2 separate regions of the Homo sapiens genome follow, and region 2 is linked to region 1. Evidence: fine-mapped expression QTL. A gene starts in region 1. The other region holds a variant in brackets. All regions are shown on one strand. Distances are between the middles of the regions. Region 1 holds the start of OSCAR (osteoclast associated Ig-like receptor). Region 2 holds the start of PRPF31-AS1 (PRPF31 antisense RNA 1).

Region 1 (9,867 bases):
TAATCCCAGCTACTCAGGAGGCTGAGGCAGAAGAATCCCTTGAGCCTGGGAGGCAGAGGTTGCAGTGAGCCCAGATTGTGCCATTGCACTCCAGCCTGGGCAACAGAGAGAGACTCCATCACCAAAAAAAAAAAAAAAAAAAAAGCCTTACAAACTGGAGGAGAAAGGGTTGCACAAACAACAGTCACTGACCACAGTCCATTTAGGGTGGGAGCCAGGAGTCCTGGGGGATGGGGTACAGTTCATAAAAGGAATGTTCTAGGCCAGTGCTGTCTGACAGATGGTAAGAGCCAGGTATATAATTTTATATCTTCTAGTAGCTACAGTAAAAATAAGAGATACAGATGAAACAAATTTTAAGAAACATACTTGGATGGGCGAGGTGGCTCATGCCTATAATCCCAGGACTTTAGGAGGCTGAGACGGGTGGATCACCTGAGGTCAGGAGTTCGAGACCAGCCTGACCAATATGATGAAACCCCGTCTCTACTGAAAATACAAAAACAGCCAGGTGTAGTGGCATGCGCCTGTAATCCCAGCTACTAAGGAGGCTGAGACAGGAGAATCGCTTGAACCCGGGAGGCGGAGGTTGCAGTGAGCCGAGATCAGGCCATTGCACTCTAGCCTGGACAAAAGCGAAACTCCGTCTCAAAAAAACAAAAACAAACAAACAAAAAAAACCATAGTACATCCAAAACATCACTTCGCCATGTAATCAACAAAAGATTATTGGTAGTTTACACACTCTGTTATACTAAGTTTTTGAAATCCAGTGTCTTATACCACCTCAATTCATACCAGCACCACTTCAAATGCTCAGTGGCCAGTTGTGGCTGGTGGCTGCCATACTGAATAAGTGTTCAGAACCTTAACCTAGTGCCTGGCTGGTGGACCAGCAGTACTGACAAGACCTGGGAACTCTTCAAAAATGCAGAATCCCATGCCCCACCCCAGACCTACAGAATCAGAACCTACAGTTTGGCCGGGCGCAGTGGCTCACCCCTGTAATCCCAGCACTTTGGGAAGGCAGATCACTTGCGGTCAGGAGTTCAAGACCAGCCTGGCCAACATGGTGAAACCTTGTCTCTACTAAAAATACAAAAATTAGCCGGGCGTGGTGGTGCTCGCCTGTAATCCCAGCTACTTGGGAGGCGGAGGCAGGAGAATCACTTGAACCCTAGAGGCGGAGGTTGCAGTGAGCCATGATCAAACCATTGCACTGTAGCCTGGAAGACAGAGCGAGACGCCATCTCAAAAAAAAAAAAAAAAAAAAGCTGGCCGGGCGCGGTGGCTCACGCCTGTAATCCCAGCACTTTGGGAGACCGAGTTGGGAGGATCACGAGGTTAGGAGATCGAGACCATCCTGGCTAACACGGTGAAACCCCGTCTCTATTGAACATACAAAAAATTAGCCGGGCATGGGGGCGGGCGCCTGTAGTCCCAGCTACTCGGGAGGCTGAGGCAGGAGAATGGCGTGAACCCGGAAGGCGGGGCTTGCACTGAACCGAGATCGCGCCACTGCACTCCAGCCTGGGCGACAGAGCGAGACTCAGTCTCAAAAACAAAAACAAAAAATTAGCTGGGCGCCTGTAATCCCAGCTACTCGGGAGGCTGAGGCAGGAGAATCCCTTGAACCCAGGAGGCCGAGGTTGCAGTGAGCCGGGATCGCGCCACTGCACTTCAGCCTGGGTGAGAGTGAGACTCCATCGCAAAAAAAAAAGCTACATTTTAACAATCCCCCGCCCCCATCCCTGCAGGAACTCCGGTGCTAATTAAAGTGTGAGTAGGGCAGTTCCAGGGCAGAGGGCAGAGATTTTCAATCAGCAAGGCACATTGGGATCATACGGGGATTTTCACAAGACACAGATTCCCCAGTCCCACCTCCACCCAAGCCAACTCAATTCAGAATGGGGGAGAGGAAAGATGAAAAGGAGGAGGAGGATCTGGACTTTTTTTTGGTGCTCAGGTGTTAAGGCATAAGCAGGGTTGAGAACGTCTCATTTAGAGGGGTTAAGAGCGTATTGGGTAGGTGGAGAGGAACGCGGGGGGCGATGGTGGAGAGGTTATAATGGGTATGGGGATAGATAAGGGGATGCCGTGGGGGTGCAGACACACTAGAGGGGACCCGAGGGCGGCGATAGGGCTTTAGGGGTACAAGATGGAGGGATGTAGGGGGACGGGGGTGGACGATGCAAGTTTGCGCCTGGAGCACTCACGCACCGAGGCCCCCGACGACGAAGGACACGACCAGCACTGGCTCCTTGTCCCAGGCATTCTTGAGGAAGGCGCCGACTCCTGAAGGGGTGGCAAGAAGCGTCACCCCTGCAAGTAGCTGCCCCCGGTGACCTCTAACCCTCTCGTGCCACCCCTGCCCTGGAGGAGCCCCCTCGTGACTTCTGCGTTCCCCTCCAGCACGGACCCCATCGCTTCCACCCCTGCCCTGCCGCACCTCAGTCCCAGGACCGCCCAGAGGTTCCCAGAACTACCCGAGCCCCGTGCGCCACCGGCACCTGCACTTACTCGCAGCCATCTTTGTCTCCGCGGCGGCGACAGCGGCGAGGACGCGGAGCACCCTGGGAGTTGTGGTCCCTATGCGCGAGAACCCGCTCCCAGGGCTGCGCGTGCGCCCTGGAGCACAAGTAGAGGCGAAAGCAAGGACGCGGAGCACTCTGGGAGTTGTGGTCCCTCTGTGCGACGGCCCGCTTTCGGAGCCTGCGCGTGCGCACTCGCGCAGAACAAAGATGGAGCCGTGGAGGTAAAGGAAGTGGTGTCAGGAGCAAGCGCAAGCCTGACTTTGCGGACCTGCGTGGAATCTCCTTAGTCTCAGCCTAGAAGTCGCTCCGGAGTGACTAGTCCTCCTGCTGCGACCCACCTAAGGCGGAACAAAATAGTCCCCATTTTATAGTTTATGTATGAAAGCCCATTTTACAGACGAAGAAACTGAGCCCGGGAGAAGGTGAATGACTAACCTGTCCTTCGAGGTCTCAGCTCAACATCGGCTCGTCCTGGAAGCGCTAGGTCTCATCCCAGATGGGTTAGGAGCTTTCTGCGGGCTCTCACAGTGCTCTGTTACCGCCATTATAGCTCAGATCACTTAAGAAACTGACCTGGTCTGGGCCAGGCGCGGTGGCTCACGCCTGTAATCCCAGCACTTTGGGAGGCCGAGGCGGGCGGATCACGAGGTCAGGAGATCTAGACCATCCTGGCTAACATGGTGAAACCCTGTCTCTACTTAAAAATACAACACAAATTAGCCGGGCGTGGTGGTGGGCGCCCGTAGTCCCAGCTACTGGGGAGGCTAAGGCAGGAGAATGGCGTGAACCCGGGAGGCGGAGCTTGCAGTGAGCCGAGATCACACCACTGCACTCCAGCCTGGGCGACAGAGCGAGACTCCGTCTCAAAAAAAAAGAAACTGACCTGGTCTTGGTCTTTCAGTCGGACTGGTAGCTGCTGCTTGAGAGCAGTAACGGAGTCTGAGTTCCCTCTGTGCCTGCCAACATGGCACAGCGAGGGTCTGGCACGTAATAGGTTCTAATTTTTTTTTTTTTCTTCTGAGATTGAGTCTAGCTCTGTCGCCCAGGCTGGAGTGCAATGGCGCGATCTCGGCTCACAGCAACCTCCGACTCCCGAGTTCAAGCGATTCTCCTGCCTCAGCCTCCTGAATAGCTGGGATTACAGGCGCGCGCCTCCACAGCCGGCTAATTTTTCTTTTTTAGGAGAGACGGGGGTTTCTCCATGTTGGTCAGGCTGGTCTCGAACTTCCCGACCTCAGGTGATCCACCCGCCTTGGCCTCCCAAAGTGCTGGGATTACAGGCGTGAACAACCGCGCCCGGCCTAGAGGGGCTAATTTTTATCTATCTATCTATCTAACACAGTATCACACCAAGAGCCTGGCACATAATAGGTGCTAATTTTTCTCTGTCAACCAATCTATCAATCGATCAATTAATCACAGCAAGGGCCTGGCACATAATTGGTGTTAATTTTTATCTATCCATCAATCAATCACAGCAAGGGCCTGGCACTTAACAGGTGCTAATTTTTATCTATCTATCTATCTATCTATCTATCTATCTATCCATCCATCCATCTATCTATCTTTCAATCACAGCAAGGGCCTGGCACATAATAGGTGCAAATTTTTATCTATCTGTCAATCAATGACAGCAAGAGTCTGGCACATAATAGGTTCTTATTTTTAAAACAGACAGATATCTTTCTATCTGTCTATCTATATTTAAAGACATGGTCTCACTCTATCACCCAGGCTGGAGTGCAGTGGCACAATTTATTTATTTATTTTTTAGACAGGGTCTCGCTCTGTTGCCCAGGCTGCTCTTGAACTCTTGGGCTCAAGCGATCCTCCTGCCTCCACCTCCTGACTAGTATTTGTTTCTAGAGTTAAATAAATGAACACCACAGGTTATGACTGAACCCCCTGCTAATTTTTCCACAGTGCCATAGGGCTATGACACAGTCACCCACAGGCCCCCACCTCGATACTCTCTTCCGTAAATGAGGATCTGGGTCTGGTTTTCTGATGTTGCCTCATTTCCTGGGAGGGGAGAGGGTGCGACCAAGCCCTGGCTCCAGCTCTAGCGGGTATCTGCCCACCATGGCCCTGGTGCTGATCCTCCAGCTGCTGACCCTCTGTGAGTCACCCCTTTCTTCTCCCTGGGTTCCTGGCTGGGGTTGGGGGCAGAGAGAGAGGCAATGGAGACCCAGACACCCTGCAGGGGGACCAGGCAGCAGGTTTGGGATTCTAGGTTCAAATAAAGAACAGGGCTGGGGCCCAGACCCCTGGGTCCTAAAGCAAGAGAACACAGATTCCCGAAAGAGGAAGGAGGTGGGGACAGGTATCTCTGGTTCTTGAGGCAGGAAGAGGTCAGGAGACAGGGAGGACTCCCAGATTCTTATATGGGAGGGGGATGGAAGCCAGGACTCCTGATTCCCTGGGAAAAGGGGGCTGGGAACAGGGCTCTTAGCTCCTGAGAGAAGAGGGAAATGGGGACCCAGATTCCTGAACTCGTGAGAGGAGAAACTCTACGATCATTGTTCCCTGGAAAGGTGGAGTTCAAGGGCCTGAACTCTTGGTTGCCCAGGCCAGAGGGGTCTGCGTTCAGACTTCTTCGGTAGGTGGGCAATGGATGTCCAAATTTCTGCCTACTGAGACAGGAGGAGGGAGGGATAAGATTCTCATTTCCCAGAGGAGATAGGAGCTGGGAACTCAGATTCCTGGGTTACCAATGAGATGGGGCTGGCCACAAAGGGTTTTGAAAAGAACTCGCTGTTGGGCGCAGCGGCTCATGCCTGTGGGAGCCGAGGCCCAGCACTTTGGGAGGCCGAGGCGGGTGGATCACCTGAGGACAGGAGTTCAAGACCAGCCTGACCAACATGGCGAAACCCCTCTCTACTAAAAATACAAAGATTAGCCTGGTGTGGTGGCGGGCACTTGTAGTCCCAGCTACTACGGAGGCTGAGGCAGGAGAATCACTTGAACCTGGGAGGCAGAGGTTGCAGTGAGCTGAGATCACACCACTACACTCCAGCCTGGGCGACAGAGTGAGACTCTGCCTCAGACAAAAAAAAAAAAAGGAAAAAGAAACTAGTCCCTCAACCTCCTACAGGGCCTCTGTGTCACACAGACATCACTCCGTCTGGTGAGTAGCCACCCCATCCACTCTCCTTTTGTTGCTGACACCCCTTTTCCAATTACTCAGATTTTATTTTGGTGCCCAATCCCATCCCAGATATCCTTATTTTCCTCCCTCCCTCCATTCCTTCCTTCTTTTCTCATTCCCCTTAGTGGCCATTATAGGTGAGTACTGAAGACCAGGAACTTCTGAGGCAGAGGCCTAAGCTAGGACCTCAGTTTCACCATCGTATTCATTTATATGTGACCATATGACCTAGAACAAGTCACAGCTTGCTAAGACTCCATTTCCTTCTCTGTAAAATGGGCCGCTGTGAGATCTCATCAAATCACATGTGCAAAACCCTGAGCCTGGCACAGTACAGGGCTTAAGAAATAGGATCTTGGGCTGGGCGCAATGGCCAACGTCTGTAATCCCAGCACTTTGGGAGGCAGAGGCGGGCGGATCACAAGGTCAGATCGAGATCATCCTGGCTAATGTGGTGAAACCCCGTCTCTACTAAAAAAAAAAAAAAAAAAAAAAAATTAGCCGGGTGTGGTGGGACGCACCTGTAATCCCAGCTACTCAGGAGGCTGAGGCAAGAGAATCGCTTGAACCCAGGAGGCAGAGGTTGCAGTAAGCTGAGATCGCGCCACTGCACTCCAGCCTGGGTGACAGTGCAAGACTCCACTTCAAAAACAAACAAACAAACAAAAAAAACTCTTTTGGAGATATTTCAGTGTCGCTATAGCTATCTCTACCTATTTATTTTATTTATTTATTTATTTATTTTGAGACCAGTTTCTCTCTGTCGCCCAGGCCGGAGTGCAGTGGTGCAATCTCGGCTCACTGCAACCACCTCCTGGGTTCAAGGGATTCTCCTGCCTCAGCCTCCTGAGTAGCTGGGACTACAGGCACACACCACAATGCCCGGATAATTTTTGTATTTTTAGTAGAGACAGGGTTTCCCCATGTTGGTCAGGCTGGTCTGGAACTCCTGACCTCAGGTGATCCCTCTGCCTCAGCCTCCCAAAGTGTTGGGATTACAAACATGAGCCCCCTCACCCGACCCTTATTTTTATTCATTTTTAGAGATGGGGTCTCATTGTGTCACCCGGGCTGGAGTACGGTGGCTCTATCATAGCTCACTGCAGCTTTGAATTCCTGGGCTCAGACAATCCTCCAGCCTCAGCCTCCCAAAGTGCATGCCACCATGGAGTTCTCACTCTGTTGCCCAGGCTGGAGTGCAGTGGCATGATCTCAGCTAACTGCAGCCTCCGACTCTAGGGTTCAAGTAATTCTCCTACTCAGCATCCCAAACAGCTGGAACTACAAGCTAGCACTACCACGCCTGGCTAATTTTTCTGTTTTTAGTAGAGATGGGATTTTACCATGTTGGTCAGGCTGGTCTTGAACTCCTGACCTCAGGTGATGCACCCACCTTGGCCTCCCAAAGTGCTGGGATTACAGCTGTGAGCCACCGGACCCAACAGCCTTCCTGTACTCTTAATTTGTGTGATTTGTGAATAAGTGATATCTGCCAGTACTATCATTTGTCCTCTAGTTTTGTCTTTTAGCATACACAACTTAAGAAATTTGAAGTGGTCAAATTAATTAATCTTCCATACAACTTTTTATTTTATATTTTAAGAAGCCTTCCTTACCCCAAGACAAATATATTTTCCTATAGTTTTTTGAATACTTTTATAGTTTAAAAAAAAAGAAACACAGGGTCTTTAATTAATCTGGAAGTTGTTTTGGGAAATGGTATGAGGTAGGGATCCAACATTTTTCTTTTCCAAATAGCAAGTTTTGGCAACTCTTGAAATACTATATTGCAAATATTCTGGAAAGCTATTTAAAATTAGAGTTCTGGCTGGGCGTGGTGGCTCACACCTGTAATCCCAGCACTTTGGGAGGCCGAGGTGGGAGGATTGCTTGAGCCCAAGAGTTCAAGAGTAGCCTGGGCAATATAGCGAATGCTCGTCTCTACTAAAAATTAAAAAAAAAAAAATTAGCCTGGTGTAGTGGCATGTGCCTGTGGTCCCAGGTACTCAGGAGGCTGAGGTGGAGGACTGTTTGAGCCCAAGAGATTGAGGCTGCAGTGAGTTGAGAACATGCCACTGCACTCCTGCCTGAGCAACAGAGCAAGACCCTGCCTCAAAAAAAAAAAAAAAAAAAAAAAAAAAAGTCTGGGTGTGGTGGCACAAGCTTGTAAACTTAGCACTTTGGGAGGCCGAGGTGGGAGGATTGCTTGAGGCCAGTAGTTTAAGACCAACCTGCTCAACATAGGGAGACCGCCCCCTCCCATCTCATTACTTAAAAATAATAATAATAATAAAATTACAGAGTTCTGGGACCTGACCTTTTGAAACTGTGTTTACAAACTGTGGAGTAAAGCTCAGAAGTTTCTGTCCTGCCCCTCTGATTTGCACCTGGTTTTAACAAGGCTTGATTGTAGTCCAGTCTCTCCCTGATTTTACAAACAGGAAACTGAGGCTAAGAAAGGGGCAGTAATTGTCCAAGGTGATTTTCCTCCTTCCCCAACTTCCCTTTCATCTTCTGGGGCTCCCAGGAGGCCCGAGGACCCAGGCAGCCCCGTTTATTCAGTCCCCCCAGCTTCATACCACCCTAAGCCATGGCTGGGAGCTCAGCCGGCTACAGTTGTGACCCCTGGGGTCAACGTGACCTTGAGATGCCGGGCACCCCAACCCGCTTGGAGATTTGGACTTTTCAAGCCTGGAGAGATCGCTCCCCTTCTCTTCCGGGATGTGTCCTCCGAGCTGGCAGAATTCTTTCTGGAGGAGGTGACTCCAGCCCAAGGGGGAAGTTACCGCTGCTGCTACCGAAGGCCAGACTGGGGGCCGGGTGTCTGGTCCCAGCCCAGCGATGTCCTGGAGCTGCTGGTGACAGGTGAGGTCCTGGGGTCGGGGAGGAGAAGTGGGTGGAACAAGGGAGTTGGGGGAGGGACAGAGAGATATAGGGAAAGAGAGACAGAGCGAGGCGGGCAAACAGATTCACAGACACAAGAAAAGACAGATACAGAGACACTAGGGGGAGAGAGAGAGACAGGGGAGCAGAGAGAGAGAGAGGTACAGTGCGGGGGGAGAGAGAGAGAAAGAGGCAGAAGGAGAAAGGGAGGCAGAGAGAGAGGGAGGCAGAGAGAGAGGGAGGCAGAGAGAGAGGGAGGCAGAGAGAGAGGCAGGCAGAGAGAGAGGGAGGCAGAGAGAGAGGGAGGCAGAGAGAGAGGGAGGCAGAGAGAGAGGGAGGCAGAGAGAGAGGGAGGCAGAGAGAGGGAGGCAGAGAGAGAGGCAGGCAGAGAGAGAGGCAGGCAGAGAGAGAGGGAGGCAGAGAGAGAGGGAGGCAGAGAGAGAGGGAGGCAGAGAGAGAGGGAGGCAGAGAGAGAGGGAGGCAGAGAGAGAGGGAGGCAGAGAGAGGGAGGCAGAGAGAGAGGGAGGCAGAGAGAGAGGCAGACAGAGAGAGAGACAGGCAGAGAGAAAGAGAGGCAGAAAGAGAGAGAGAGGCACAGAGAAAGCGAGAGACAGAGGAGAAGGAGAAACAGAGCGAGCGAGCGAGCGGAAGACGCTCACGCGGCCCCGGACTCTCACCCCGTCTCTGCAGAGGAGCTGCCGCGGCCGTCGCTGGTGGCGCTGCCCGGGCCGGTGGTGGGTCCTGGCGCCAACGTGAGCCTGCGCTGCGCGGGCCGCCTGCGGAACATGAGCTTCGTGCTGTACCGCGAGGGCGTGGCGGCCCCGCTGCAGTACCGCCACTCCGCGCAGCCCTGGGCCGACTTCACGCTGCTGGGCGCCCGCGCCCCCGGCACCTACAGCTGCTACTATCACACGCCCTCCGCGCCCTACGTGCTGTCGCAGCGCAGCGAGGTGCTGGTCATCAGCTGGGAAGGTGAGGGCCCTGAGGCCCGGCCCGCCTCCTCCGCCCCAGGAATGCAGGCCCCAGGACCTCCGCCCTCAGACCCAGGAGCCCAGGCCCCCAGCCTCTCCTCCTTCAGACCCAGGGGTCTAGTCCTGCAGCCCCTCCTCCCTCAGACCCAGGATTCCTGGGACCCAGCCCCTCCTCCCTCAGATCCAGGAGTCTAGTCCTCCAGCTCCTCCTCCCTCAGACCCAGGATTCCCGGGCCCCAGTACCTCCTCCCTCAGACCCAGGACTCCAGGCCCCCAGCCCCTCCTTCCTGGACCCAGGACTCCAGGCCCCCAGCCCCTCCTTCCTGATCCA
Region 2 (8,000 bases), 26 kb before region 1:
AGCTGTCTGCGCCCAGCCTGGCATTTCTGCCTTCTCCTACACTGGACATCTTACTGAGCTGTCTGCGCCCGGCCTGGCATTTCTGCCTTCTCCTACACTGGACATCTTACTGAGCTGTCTGCGCCCGGCCTGGCATTTCTGCCTTCTCCTACACTGGACATCTTACTGAGCTGTCTGCGCCCGGCCTGGCATTTCTGCCTTCTCCTACACTGGACATCTTACTGAGCTGTCTGCGCCCGGCCACCCACTGGCTCCAAGAAGGTAAGACTTGTCTCTCATTCGTTGCTTCATCCCCAGAGCCGGGAACACTGACAGAACTCAGCAGGTGCTGCGTAGACACCCGCTGACTGGGCAGATGAGCTCGCTGCTGTCTCGCCTCCGTGGTGCAGGCTCGCCCTGCTCTGTGGATGGTAAACCGAGGCTCCGACGATGCGGTGACTGCCATGCTCCACGCTGCTCACTGCTGACTGGCTGGGGCCTGGACCCACACTTGACATCCAAGCCCGCCTAGCCGGGAACTTTCTCGAGTGGGGTCCTGAGGTTACCTTAACCGTCCTGGCCGTTTTGAACTGGAGGGCCTGGAGGCTGAGCAGTGTTACCCGCTCACAGCCCGACAGAGGAACTGGGTGCCCTGAACACAGCTGTGGGCCTGGTTCTAAAGCAGTGCGTGCTCACGAGGACTGCTCAGCGCTGGGCTCTCGTCTCTGCTAACCTCTTCCTGTGTGCCAGGAGCTGTCTACGTCCTCTGCATACCTCGTCACCACACCCTCCACAACAGCCCCATGAGGAGACTCATCCTGGCCTTCTTCACAGGGGCAGAGGGCAAGGGGCCTTGCCAAGGTCTCAGGGCTGGGGACAGAGCCGGCCCAGGGGAGGTACCTGGAGTGGGGTGAAGGCCACGCTGGAGGCCGTGCCCGAGGAGCGGTCGCGGATGGTGGACTTCCCGCCATATACGACGCTCTGCTTCTGCAGGGTCCGCTGTGGGGAGGACAGGGAGGCTGCGATCTGGGCTCCCCCCACCTTGTGTCCCTCGGTCCCCAGCCCCACCTGGGTCTGGCCCATACCTGCAGCGTCTTGGAGATCCTGGCCTTGGTGGCCTCGTTTACCTGTGTCTGCCGCACACGCCCACTGCCCGACTTGCCCAGGTGGCCCAGGCTGAATCCCAGGTCCTCCTGGTAGGCGTCCTCCTCGATCTAGGGGGGAGAGGAGGCGCCCTGCAGTTCAGCGACCAGGCCCTGCCCTCCAGCCACCGAGGCACCCCCTCCACCAGCCCGAAGCCCAGCGGTCACCAGCCGGCCGGTCCCACGGGCACCTGCTCCGGTACCCACTCGGCCCGGCTGAGGCCTGGGGGCCCACACACGCGGGGGATGCTGGGGAGCCTGAGAGGGGCCCGGTCCCAGCACTGCTCTGTGAGCTCAGAGTTGGGAGGCCATTCCTTCCTTACTCGTGTGGGTCGGGGGATGTCAGGAACCAGAACAGGTTTAATAGGATGAGGTGGCCTCTGAGTTCGGTCCTGCAGGACCAAGGGGATGACGCTGGGATAACAGAGGAGACTGGCGGGGCCCAGGGACGGGGCGGCCGTGCAGCAGGGCACTAAGGAGCCTCTGGGCAGGGAGGAACCGGCCAAGGAGCCCGGGGCGATGGGAAGCCGCGGGGGCTCTAAGCAGCGGAGACACAGGCTCCAAGGGTCGCGAGGGTCGCTTTGGGGCTGAACGGATGGAAACGAGAATAGAGGCCGGGGGGGGGGAGGCTGGGGCAGCGCCCTAGACATGAGCCAGGGCCACAGGACGAGAGGAGGGGCGGTGGCAGGAGGCAGAGGGCGGTGGCGGCTGGCTGGCTGTGGGGTTGAGGAGGGCGCTCTGGGAGTCTGACCTCTCCGAAGCTCATACGGTTGGCCTGCTTCCGGATCTCCGTCAGCCCCAGCCGCTCCTTCATCTTGCGGTACCTGGGGACGGGTGGGTGGGCGGCGCCAGGGAGTCGGCTGGGAGGAGGACGCCGGCTTCTCCCCTCCATGACCCCCATGCCTACCGGACCCCCAGGGCCCCTCACCTGCGGCCGCCTCGCTTCTTCCGCTGTCCATCCAGGGGCGCAGGCAGCGGCTTCACCTGCTTCACAGGCGGCGGCTCCTGCCACTTGTCGAATTTGCGCTCGATCTCATCCTTCAGTTCGTAGCCCACCTGGGGAGGGCGAGGGGGAGGTCCTGCAGCTGCTCGCGTGGGCTGCCCACCCAGGCCTCCTCTGAGCGGGCCCCCCGAGTATCCACGTGCCTTAGTTAAATCAGCACCTAATGCTGCCTCACCGCCACCCCCTTTCTTTTTCTTCTTGGTGTTGACTTAGCACCGCTAGACGCAGGACAGAGTTCACCTGTTGACTGTCTCTTTGACCCGGCCCCAACAAGAATGTCCACGCCACGGGGCAGGGGTCCTGTCTGTGCTACTCACAGCTGCACCCCCACACCCAGACCAGGGGTGAGATGGGGAGAGGGAAAGGAGAAGGGGACACGGAACACCTGAACGCTGTGCCAGGCCGGGTGCTTGGCAAACGACAGTTCACAAGACAGAAAACGTCTCCTCTCCCGAGTACATCTACCAAGGAAGACAGAAGGTAACTGAATAATTACTTGAATAACATCCCCTGTTGCAGCGGGGACAGATCCTGGTGTGGAAGGCAAATTACGCCCCCACCAACACACACATGCCCAAAGAGGCCCATGTTCTAATTCCCAGAATCACAGGGCAAAAGGGACGTGAAGAGGTTAAGAAGGATTTTAAGGATTGTGAGCTGGGAAGACTATCCTGGACCATCTGAGTAGGCTCAGTATAGCCACAGGGGCCCTTAAAATAGAAGAGGGGAACAAAAACAGAGGCGGAGATATGAAGACAGAAGCAGAGTCAGAGAGAGGTCTGAGGGTGCTATGTGGCTGGCTCCGCAGACAGAGGGAGGGCCACGAGCTAAGGGGTGCCAGTGACCCCTAGAAGCTGGAAAAGACCAGGGAATGGATTATCCCTTGAATCCCCCAGAAGGAACGCTCCAGGATGACACCCTGACTTCAGCCCAGTGAAACTCATTTTGGACTTCTGACCTACAGGACCACAGATAATAAACCTGTACTGTTTTTTGTTTTTGTTTTTAGATGGAGTCTCGCTATGTCACCCAAGCTGGAGTGCAATGATGCAATCTCAGTTCACTGCAACCTCCGTCTCCCAGGTTCAAGCAATTCTCCTGCCTCAGCCTCCTGAGTAACTGGGATTACAGGTGCGTGCCACCACACCCGGCTAATTTTGGTAGAGATGGGGTTTCACCATGTTGGCCAGGCTGGTCTCAAACTCCTGACCTTGTGACCCGCCCACCCTGGCCTCCCAAAGTGCTGGGATTACAGGCGTGAGCTACTGCACCCGGCCACACCTGCACTGTTTTAAGCCAGTAGGTTCATGCTACCTTCCAACAGCAGACCTAGGAAACCCCACTGGGGAAGGGGGTGCCTGACCCCAGGGAGGGTGGGCAGAAGCACTGCCTCCGCCTTGGTAGGACAGTGCTCGCTGGGGTGGGCTCCCTGCTGAGGGTCTCCCTGCAGAGACACCCCAGGCCCAGAGGAAAAGACGCCCGGCCGCCCCTCACCTTTCCCTCCTCACCTTCCCTTCTGTGCTCTCGTGGAAACTGTCCACACGGGCTGCCAGTGTGCACTTGGCGGCCACCAGCCGGGCCGCTTTCCGCCGCAGATCCTGGAGCAACGGAAAACGGGGGTGGAATCTGTGTGAGACAGACAGACAGAGGTAACAGCAAAGCAACCGCGCGCGCTCCTCCTCTGGCTCTACCTGGGGTCCTGGAAGGGGGCTTTCCACCCTTGGGCTCTAGAGGTGTGTGCTCTCAGCTCCTACTTCACAGGAAGAGGGGATGAGGGCAGGGCACAGAGCCATGTCCCAGCTG[A/G]TAAGTGGCCATCAGGTAAGGATGACAGTAAGGCACGCTGACAACGAGGACGGTGGTGACTGTGGAGACGCCGGGGGGAGTGCACTCGGCCTGGATGCCAGCCCCATGCTAAGCACGCCCCTCGGATCATCTCATCAAATATTCAAATATCGGGCTGGTGTGATCATTGCACCCCCTTTTCAGATGTGGAAACCAAGGCTTCAAGTCATGTGGCCAGGGAGACAGCCAGCAGGTGATGGAGCCAGGGTTCCAATCCAAACTGCAAACAGAGCCCAGCTGTCAGCCACAGTGAAGCGATGGCCAGCCCTGGCCTCCCTTACAGGCCTGTGGTGTCTACGGCCTGTGCCTGGACCGATGTGAGATGGCCAAATGAAGAGGCAGAGGCCTGGGTGACAAGACATCAGGCTCCCTGGGGCAGGTTTAACCCATATGCCCAGGGCTGTGAGGCGGTGGCGATGGCAGGGGTGCAGTGAGGCAGCTGGAGCCCCGAGCCCCAGGCCCACCCGTCCTGGGTTCTATCGCCCACTCTCTCTCCTCCCAGGATGGGGTGACCTGCCAGCCTCCCTGGGTGTGTTCCAGTAGCAGTGCCTGACCTAAAGGGTCGCAGAAAAGACCACAAAAAAAACCCCACACAGGGCTGGGGGGTGGGGCCAGGAAGTGCCTGCCCAGCCTTGGCCATCAGTGCTATTGTTCTCCCCATCCCTGGGGGAGGCCAGGCAGGGCACAGGGCCGTGAGCCTGAGGTAACTCGCCACAGTTGGACAGAGCAGGGTCTGGACCCAGGCCTGTCTGTCCCAGAACCTGTCTTGCTTGTTTTTTTTTTTTTTTGAGACAGAGTCTCACTCTGTCACCCAGGCTGGAGGGCAGTGGTATGATCTTAGCTCACTGCAACCTCCACCTCCTGGGTTCAAGCGATTCTCCTGCCTCAGCCTCCCAAGTAGCTGGGATTATAAGTGTGTGCCACTATACCCAGCTAGTTTTTTGTATTTTTGGTAGAGATGGGGTTTCACCATGTTGGCCAGGCTGGTCTCGAACACCTGACCTCAGGTGATCTGCCCGCCTCGGCCTCCCAAAGTGCTGGGATGACAGGCACGAGCCACTGCGCCCCGCCAGGCTAGCGGGCCTGTGTGTGTGCTGTCAGGCGTCGATGCTGGGATGGTGATGTGTCCCGACTGCAGGGAGAGGACCCGGGAAGCTCCGAGGTTGGTGACCTCTCCTGCCCCTCCTGTGTGTCTCTCCCCATGGCTGATGTGCAGCCCTCAGTGGATTCTGTGAGTCTTTCTAGTGAATGGTCAAACCTGAGGGTGGTCTTCGGAGCAGTTGCACGCTAACCCGACGCTGCTTGTCGTGAGCTAGGCCTGAACTGTAAGTGCTTCATGTGCACTGAGCCCTCGTCCCAACTCATGAAGCAGGCGCTGTGCTCCCATTTGATAGGGGAGGAGACTGAGGCACAGGGCGCTCATGCCTCTTGCCCACAGTCACCTGACTGGTGGGTGCTGGAGCTGGTCTGCTGCAGAGCCCTGGCTCTCACGTCCCATGCCACCCTGTTCCCAGCTCCTGAGTGCTACCGTCAGCTGGGCCAGATGGTGGGTGGCTGCTCAGGCTGTCTGGGCACAGCGGAAGGCTCCAGGGGGGCCGGGGGAGGGGCCATGACGCAGTGGGCTCACCGGTGGCAGGGACTGCACGATGTCACTGTGGTAGATGTAGCCGGTGTGGGGCAGCACTGAGGTAGACGAGAAGCCCGACAGCGTCTTGCGCTGGGCCCCGAGCAGCATGATGTTGCAGGCGGGCATCTTGGAGAGGTTGGTCAGGCCGCCGGCCACACCTGCGGTGGGAGGGAGGGAGGAAGGGGGGGCGGTCAGAAGAAAGCAGAGAGGTGGGGGTGAGTAAATCTGCCTGGGGGCTCGACGTGTGCTGGGCACCTTTACATGAAGTTCTGGTTGGATTCCTCGATGGCCCTGCCAGGCGGGCGACCTGGCCCATTCCGCAAGGGGCAGATGCAAAGGAGGCTCAGAGAGGGAGGGCAGCTGGCCTGGGGGTGCAGGGAGGAGGCCCCCAACAGGAAGCTGACCACCACGTTTGTGCTAAGCCACACTAACGCCGTTCCAGGGATGGCTGTGTTTTGGAACCATTTTCACCAAACCAGGAGCTCCCTGACAACAGGGCCTGGGTGTGGTCATCTCTGGGTTTCCGGCACAGGGGAGGGAGAAGGAGCTGTGGGTGAGTGTTTTTCCCACAGATGAGGCTTTGCTGTGTGCCAGGCTGGCTGACCTCTGTGATGTCCAGGGAGACGGGGTGCTGAGGTCCAGGTGCCAAAGCCCCCATTCTACAGAAAAGGATGTAGCTTTCCCAAGGTCACAGTGTCAGCAGACCCCCGCTCCATGGGACCCAGCCCGGGGACTCACCCATGATCTTGGCGGCCGTGGATGCCCCGATAATGATGGACAGGTTGGGTGCGATGAAGGACATCCGGGACTCCACATACTCGTAGATGCGGTGCTTGGAGGCGTTCAGCTCCAGCGCCATGTCGCAGGCCTCCTCCAGCCGCTCCAGCTCCTCCTCCGACAGCTGCTGCCTGCAGGGGCGGGTGGGCCCAGCCTCCTGGGTCTCCCGCCTGCCTGGTGTGCCCAGCCCCAGCCCTCTCGGTTCTGTGTGTGTGTGTGCATGTGTGTATGTGTGTGTGCGTGTGTACACCTGCGTGTGTAGCTCCAGCCTAATCCCCAATCCCATTAGGGCCCGGCGCCTCCCTCGAAGCGGACATACCCCTGGGTGGTGGAGGCGGTGACGCTGACGACCATGATGGTGGCATTGGTGAGGATCTGCTGCAGGTTCTCATTGTTCTTGCACTTGTCCAGGCTGTTGCCCAGCTCCTGGGGGCGAGCAGAGAAGATAGGGGAGGCTCGGGAACTCAGGAAGGCTCGAGAACCTCTCTTGCTCAGCACCTCCTCAGGTCTCTTCTTAGGGACACTGGGACAGTCAGGGTCTCTGCACTGGGGGCCTCTCCTGCCTCCACCGCCTGAAGCATCCACACCATTCCTGCCTCCACCACGTCAAGCATCCACACCATCTGCCCTGCTTTCGCTGACCTGGAAACGGAGCCCGGGCAGAGTGGCGTCTGGAAAGACTGTGGCCTCACAAGCCTCTGGCCTGCGTCAAGTCGGAGTGCAAATCCGCGGCCTCGCTTCCCTGCAGGGGCTTCCCCACCGCCATCCTAATCCTTTCCTGGACATGCGTGGGGACCTCCTCCTCTCCCCGCCCTCACGCACACCTGCCCCTCTTTTCCGAAACCCTTCCTTGGCTTTCTCCTAAGACCCAAAGGCTGGACGTGATCCGACCTCTTCCCCGTCCCCTCCTTCCCCGCCTCACTTCCTCCCCACTTGTTCCCTCTCCAGCTCTCTGCACTTAGACGTCTCTCTCCCCCAAATCTCCGTGTGCCTGCCCTGTGTCAACCTTCGGATGTCAACTCCAATGCCACCGGCTCCAACCACAGCGGGAGCAGCGTGGGTCAGGCCAGCGGGGAAGCCCTCTCGGGAGACTGGGGTTGGAGGGGAGCCCTGAGAAAGTCCTGTCCAGGCTCCGTCCCTCCCACGCTGGGCAGAGCAGACCACTGAGCCCTCGTCCACTCCTCTCCATCGTCTCCAGACCCTCAGGCCTCTGGGAGGGGGTCCGAGAGTGAGCCCCGCCTGCCCCTTCACGCCAGCAGAAGCACCCCACCTTCTCTGCGCTCACCTTGACCGTGCGGATGTAATCCAGTGCATTGGGGACCAAGGACTCCAGTTCAGGGAATCTCTTTGAGTACTTATCCCGGATGAACTTATGGATGATGTCTAGGGTAAACGGGACAGGAGGTTGTCGGGTGAGATGGAAGGTAGACTCTGCTGGTTGGCCCTAACACCCATGTCCCCTTCTTCCTTTAGTAACTGAAGCCCTGGCTTGTGGCCTGGCACACGGGCACCAGCATACAGCCTTTCTCAGCCGTCCTTACCGCTAGGTGTGACCAGGGGAATTAGTTCTGGTCTGTAAAACGTGAGCTGCAGTGACATGTTCTTAAAGAAAAGAAGCGCCTTGCTGGTG

What was found. PIP is the estimated chance that this variant, and not a neighbour inherited with it, causes the effect.
Region 2: its variant is fine-mapped to the expression of OSCAR in whole blood (INTERVAL, PIP above 0.99).

Annotation. Positions count from the first base shown.
Region 1 is chr19:54,095,542-54,105,408 of GRCh38, reverse strand. It overlaps OSCAR (osteoclast associated Ig-like receptor), which reads left to right and starts at 4,606. Exons shown (of 5, transcript NM_133169.6): 1 at 4,606-4,653; 2 at 5,629-5,661; 3 at 8,245-8,547; 4 at 9,256-9,537. The coding sequence starts at 4,617. NDUFA3 (NADH:ubiquinone oxidoreductase subunit A3) reads right to left here and starts at 2,554. Exons shown (of 4, transcript NM_004542.4): 1 at 2,521-2,554; 2 at 2,221-2,295. The coding sequence starts at 2,530. RefSeq lists an enhancer at 1,789-2,765.
Region 2 is chr19:54,122,250-54,130,249 of GRCh38, reverse strand. PRPF31 (pre-mRNA processing factor 31) reads right to left here. Exons shown (of 14, transcript NM_015629.4): 5 at 7,656-7,753; 6 at 6,690-6,796; 7 at 6,332-6,501; 8 at 5,594-5,751; 9 at 3,633-3,722; 10 at 2,050-2,177; 11 at 1,873-1,945; 12 at 1,065-1,193; 13 at 880-978. PRPF31-AS1 (PRPF31 antisense RNA 1) reads left to right here and starts at 7,608. Exons shown (of 4, transcript NR_186329.1): 1 at 7,608-7,758; 2 at 7,844-8,000. The variant A/G (reference allele first, on the strand shown) is at 3,928.